Regions from separate parts of the Homo sapiens genome. Here region 2 is reported to be linked to region 1. Evidence: microRNA targets listed by miRTarBase, many of them from high-throughput screens and not tested one by one. Region 1 holds a microRNA gene; the other region holds the end of a gene's coding sequence.

Region 1 (3,151 bases):
CCAGGGCTTGGCAGTGTGGCCCTGGGCCATGCCTCAGGGTCCTCACAGGGACAGGCCCCAGCCTGGGTGAGCCCAGAGCCATCTCTGCTCTGTAAGCCTGTGCGCCTCTGAGGCAGAAGTTGGCATTGGGAAGGACATGTTGCTCCCAGTGGCCTCGGATATCTGAGGCTCTTGACAAACACCCACTCTACACTAGGCCCTGTGCTGGGCACCAGGACAGAGATGGAGACCCAAGCTGGAGAAACACATGGACATGGGGTCCCCCAGAGCTAAAGGGGAGGATGTGAGGGCGCTTGAAAGCAAGGCTGCTGGACGGACACTTAGAAGGACAGCAAGGGGTTCAATCAGGCAGGAGACAGGGAAAAAGCTGCCAGGCCCAGCAATAGCACAGGCCAGGGTGGGCAGGGACGGATGTGGGGCCAGCGCTTGGACAGGCGATGAGGAGGGCCCCTCCCTGCAAGGCATTATGTGCCAAGTTCCTGGGTCATGAAAAAAACCTTTCCAGCACTTTCGGAGGCCACAGTGGGAGAATCACTTGAGTCAAGTTTCTTTCCTTTTCTCAAAGGGCATGGATACACCTGGTTCTCAATGCTCTCTTTTCTCACCAATTTCTTTTCTTTCTTTTTTTTTTTTTGAGACAGGGTCTCACTGTGTCACCCAGGCTGGAGTGCAGTGGTGTGATCATGACTCACTATAGCCTTGACCTCCCGGCTCAAGCAATCCTCCTACCTGAGCTTCCCAAGTAGCTGGGACTACAGGTGTGCAACACCACACTCAGCTAAGTTTTTACGTAGAGACGGGGTGTTACTATGTTGCCCAAGCTGGTCTCAAACTCATGGGCTCAAGTAATCCTCCCACCTCGCCCTCCCAAAGTGCTGGAATTACAGGCGTGAGCCACTGCGTCCAGCCCCAATTCCTCTTTTAAAAGTGGGGAAGTGGGCATGGGGAAGGAACTCTAAGGGGAATCCGCAGGGGCATCGGCAGCACTCACATTCTCATCCTTCGACGGGTGGATCTGCTCAATCAGCCGCTGGACGATCTTCTCCTCGTTGAGCCACTGAGGGTGAGAAGGCGAGGGATGCATCGCTGTCCACCACGCCCAGCCCCCCACCCCCAGAGGAGCCGGCCCTGCTCACATTGACAACATCCTGCCTCAGCTGAGGCCGCTCCACACAGGTGAGCAGGCGCAGCAGGAGGTCCATGATGGCCGAGGTGCCAATGTGCTGCAGCAGCAGGTCCACGAAGTCATCCTTCTTCCGAAGAAAGGACACGAGCTGGGGGCACACGGGCTGCGTCATGCACAGGGCCTGGCCCAGCCACCACCCCTCAACCCACGGTGGCGCCAGGGTGGGGGCCAGGGCACCTGGTCTGTCTTGCGGTTGATGAGGATGCCCATGACCTTGCTGAAGAAGCTGGCCAGCAGTGGGTTGAGGCTGCCGGTGCTCTGCAGGAAGCCGTAGAGCCGGTTCAGAAGGGACTCATCAGCACCCAGGGCATCATTGATCTGGGGCACATCTGAGGTCAGAATCTCGCAGGCCACACTGGGGTACCTGGGAGGCAAGCACAGGCGGGTGGGGGCTCGGGTCGGAGGCCGGGGGCAGGGGGCGGCAAGGCTCCACCCTCTTCTCTGCACCGGGCACTGGGTTTCTGGGAACTGCAGAGACCCCTGTCCAGGAAGGGGAAAGGGCAGAGGACAGGGTGACGCAGAAACAAGGGCCCACACCAGGCCTCCTCCACCCTGCTAACACCCAACCATCCCATCCTAGGCTCCTTACCACCCCCAAGACAAGCTGGTCCTGAAGCTCCTGCGCTTCCCAATCCCCCAGCAGCTAACACTCATCCCTTTTGCCTCTCAGCGGCTTCACTTGCAACCCCGTATGCTGCCCCAGCTCCGGCTGACTCCTGGAACCTTGCTCAACTTCCAACCTCACCTCCTGCCTCCCTCCTCCAAACTTTCACACGGTGCCTGACGGCTCCAAGACAAGAGCTGCCCCACCAGCGTGCCACTCAAGGCCCTGAGGGGCCACAGTCTGCTCCAGGACTGTGGGGAGGTACCCCTTGGGAGGCTGAGGCAGGCATATCACTTGAGGTCAGAAGTTCAAGACCAGCCTGGGCAACATGGCGAAACCCTGTCTCTACCAAAAATACAAAAATTAGCTGGGCGTGCTGGCTTATAGTCCCAGCTACTTAGGAGGGTGAGGCAGGAGAATCACTTGAACTTGGGAGGAGGAGGTTGCAGTGAGCCGATCATGCCTCTGCACTCCAACCTGGTGATAAAGTGAGTCTCAAAAAAAAAAAAAAAAGTGTCTTTTCAGCATCGCTTGGATTAAAAAATAAGTAAAGTGTCTTCAATAGCAGACAAGTGTTTCACAAACATACAAAAAAAGTTTAATAAAAAGTAAATAAAATAAAAGGCGGCGAATAAAGAGAAAAACCAGCCGGGCATGTCGTCACATGCCTGTGGTCCCAGCTACTCGGGCAACTGAGGCGGGAGGATCACCTGGGCCCGTGAATTTGTGGCTGCCGTGACCCGTGACTGTGCCACTGCCCTCCAGAGCACAGGCTTGGTCTGCACCCGGTGAGCTGTGAGGCCTTGTGCAGGAGCCTGGCTGCTCCCAGCCTCGTCTTCCTCATCCCCAAACTGGAGTTTACTGACACTGACGCATTTCAGGGTAGCTGTGAGGCTTGCGTAGTGAAGGTATGTGTGATGCTGATAGGGACGGGCTGGCCAGGAGCTGGGGAACTCACTTGTAGCGCAGCCGCTCCTCACCGCTATCTGGCGGCTCCTGGGTGACCCAGGCCACCATTGCTTGCAGGTGGGGTGGCTGCAGCAGGAAGTCCAGCAGCTTGCGGTTGACGACCTTGCACTCCTGCAGCACGTCTTCCTCGTCCAGCAGCTCGGGCAGGCTCAGGTCCTCCCGCTCCAGCAGCGTGTCCAGGTGCGAGCTTGTGTGCAGGTCAAACTTCCAAAACATGGCGCCCTGCAGGCATAGACACAACCAGCGCCGCGTCAGACGCCCCAGGGAGTCCCCACTGGACGAGGCACTGACCACAGGGGCTGAGTGCCCACCTTGGGCACAGCCTCTCCCCAAGTCCCAGCCCTCTGCCTCATGCTGAGCCCGGCCCCGCCCCGGGACTGCCCGCAGGCTCA
Region 2 (3,000 bases), not on the chromosome of region 1:
CAGCAGCAGTGGGGGCGACCGCTCACCTACCCGCATGCTGGCCTCTTGCACCAGCAGCGCTGCCTCTGTCGCCGCCGGCAACCTCATGAACCCCAGCCTGGGCGGCCAGAGTGATGGCGTGGAGGCCGACGGCAGCCACAGCAACTCACCCACGGCCCTGAGCACGCCAGGCCGCATGGATGAGGCCGTGTGGCGGCCCTACTGACCGCCCTGGTGGACTCCTCCCGCTGGAGGCGGGGACCCTAACAACCTTCAAGACCAGTGATGGGCCGGCTCCGAGGCTCCGGGCGGGAATGGGACCTGCGCTCCAGGGTGGTCTCGGTCCCAGGGTGGTCCCAGCTGGTGGGAGCCTCTGGCTGCATCTGTGCAGCCACATCCTTGTACAGAGGCATAGGTTACCACCCCCACCCCGGCCCGGGATACTGCCCCCGGCCCAGATCCTGGCCGTCTCATCCCATACTTCTGTGGGGAATCAGCCTCCTGCCACCCCCCCGGAAGGACCTCACTGTCTCCAGCTATGCCCAGTGCTGCATGGGACCCATGTCTCCTGGGACAGAGGCCATCTCTCTTCCAGAGAGAGGCAGCATTGGCCCACAGGATAAGCCTCAGGCCCTGGGAAACCTCCCGACCCCTGCACCTTCGTTGGAGCCCCTGCATCCCCTGGGTCCAGCCCCCTCTGCATTTACACAGATTTGAGTCAGAACTGGAAAGTGTCCCCCACCCCCACCACCCTCGAGCGGGGTTCCCCTCATTGTACAGATGGGGCAGGACCCAGCACGCTGCTGGCAGAGATGGTTTGAGAACACATCCAAGCCAGTCCCCCCAGCCCAGCTTCCCCTCCGTTCCTAACTGTTGGCTTTCCCCCAGCCGCACGGGTCCCAGGCCCCAGAGAAGATGAGTCTATGGCATCAGGTTCTTAAACCCAGGAAAGCACCTACAGACCGGCTCCTCCATGCACTTTACCAGCTCAACGCATCCACTCTCTGTTCTCTTGGCAGGGCGGGGGAGGGGGGATAGGAGGTCCCCTTTCCCCTAGGTGGTCTCATAATTCCATTTGTGGAGAGAACAGGAGGGCCAGATAGATAGGTCCTAGCAGAAGGCATTGAGGTGAGGGATCATTTTGGGTCAGACATCAATGTCCCTGTCCCCCCTGGGTCCAGCCAAGCTGTGCCCCATCCCCCAAGCCTCCTGGGAGGATCCAGCCAAATCTTGCGACTCCTGGCACACACCTGTCTGTAACCTGTTTTGTGCTCTGAAAGCAAATAGTCCTGAGCAAAAAAAAAAAAAAAACAAAAAAACAAAAAAAAAACAAAACAGTTTTTAAAACTGATTTTAGAAAAAGAAGCTTAATCTAACGTTTTCAAACACAAGGTCTCTTACAGGTATAGTTCCGTGATTATGATAGCTCTGTGATTATAAGCAACATCCCCGCCCCCTCTCCCCCCCGCGGACCCCCAGCTGCCTCCTGAGGGTGTGGGGTTATTAGGGTCTCAATACTTTCTCAAGGGGCTACACTCCCCATCAGGCAGCATCCCACCAGCCTGCACCACAGGCTCCCCTGGGAGGACGAGGGAAACGCTGATGAGACGCTGGGCATCTCTCCTCTGTGGCTCTAGGACATCTGTCCAGGAGGCTGGGCGGAGGTGGGCAGGATGTGAGAGGTGGGGAGTACTGGCTGTGCGTGGCAGGACAGAAGCACTGTAAAGGGCTCTCCAGCCGCAGCTCAGCTGCACTGCGTTCCGAGGTGAAGTCTTGCCCCTGAATTTTGCAAAATGGGAAAGTGGGCGCTTGCCCAAGGGCCAGGCTGCATGGATTCTCACATCAGAGTTCTCTGGCCCTAGAAAGGCTTAGAAAAGGCGTAAGGGAACTCATAAAGGCTAGCAGCATGCGGTATTTTAACTTTCTGCCTCGGCCTCTGTGGATGCAGAAATCTGCCCTACAAAATGCTCTTCATTGGTTGTCTCTGTGAGAGCACTGTCCCCACCCAACCTGTCACAACGGCCAGAACCATACACCAGAGACACACTGGCAGGTTAGGCAGTCCTTCTGGTGATCCTATTCCATTCCCTCCTGCTGCGGTTTCTCTTGGCCTGTCCTCACTGGAAAAACAGTCTCCATCTCCTCAAAATAGTTGCTGACTCCCTGCACCCAAGGGGCCTCTCCATGCCTTCTTAGGAAGCAGCTATGAATCCATTGTCCTTGTAGTTTCTTCCCTCCTGTTCTCTGGTTATAGCTGGTCCCAGGTCAGCGTGGGAGGCACCTTTGGGTTCCCAGTGCCCAGCACTTTGTAGTCTCATCCCAGATTACTAACCCTTCCTGATCCTGGAGAGGCAGGGATAGTAAATAAATTGCTCTTCCTACCCCATCCCCCATCCCCTGACAAAAAGTGACGGCAGCCGTACTGAGTCTGTAAGGCCCAAAGTGGGTACAGACAGCCTGGGCTGGTAAAAGTAGGTCCTTATTTACAAGGCTGCGTTAAAGTTGTACTAGGCAAACACACTGATGTAGGAAGCACGAGGAAAGGAAGACGTTTTGATATAGTGTTACTGTGAGCCTGTCAGTAGTGGGTACCAATCTTTTGTGACATATTGTCATGCTGAGGTGTGACACCTGCTGCACTCATCTGATGTAAAACCATCCCAGAGCTGGCGAGAGGATGGAGCTGGGTGGAAACTGCTTTGCACTATCGTTTGCTTGGTGTTTGTTTTTAACGCACAACTTGCTTGTACAGTAAACTGTCTTCTGTACTATTTAACTGTAAAATGGAATTTTGACTGATTTGTTACAATAATATAACTCTGAGATGTGTGGAAGGAGTCCAGTGCCCGGTTTCTAGGGCTATGCATGGAGGTGGGGTGGGGTGGGGGAGAGGATGGAGACCTCCTGCTGTTGCCCAGGAGGAACAGGAACAGAGACACCCAGCACCTTCATCTCCTTGCTTCCAACTTCTTCAGGAATGGCCGCAGAGACCACCCTGGCCACAGGACAGCCGGTGAGGCC

Evidence for each region. The annotated mature microRNA hsa-miR-6803-5p reads CUGGGGGUGGGGGGCUGGGCGU and lies in region 1 at 1,096-1,117, opposite strand. An mRNA with a match to its seed (bases 2 to 7 or 8) in the 3' UTR can be bound and repressed. Matches are read on the target gene's strand: a 7mer-m8 pairs with bases 2 to 8, a 7mer-A1 pairs with bases 2 to 7 and ends in A, and an 8mer does both.
Region 2: miRTarBase lists RUNX3 as a target of hsa-miR-6803-5p. Seed matches in the 3' UTR shown: 7mer-m8 at 401-407, 7mer-m8 at 720-726, 7mer-A1 at 1,177-1,183 and 7mer-m8 at 1,451-1,457.

Annotation. Positions count from the first base shown.
Region 1 is chr19:55,244,129-55,247,279 of GRCh38, forward strand. MIR6803 (microRNA 6803) reads right to left here and starts at 1,122; the gene lies at 1,058-1,122. PPP6R1 (protein phosphatase 6 regulatory subunit 1) reads right to left here. Exons shown (of 24, transcript NM_014931.4): 2 at 2,749-2,981; 3 at 1,364-1,550; 4 at 1,137-1,274; 5 at 992-1,057. The coding sequence starts at 2,975.
Region 2 is chr1:24,899,327-24,902,326 of GRCh38, reverse strand. It overlaps RUNX3 (RUNX family transcription factor 3), which reads left to right. Exons shown (of 5, transcript NM_004350.3): 5 at 1-2,816. The coding sequence ends at 205. Among named protein-coding and RNA genes, the nearest start is that of MIR6731, 19 kb to the left of the region's middle. RefSeq lists enhancers at 80-149, 480-929, 1,697-1,746.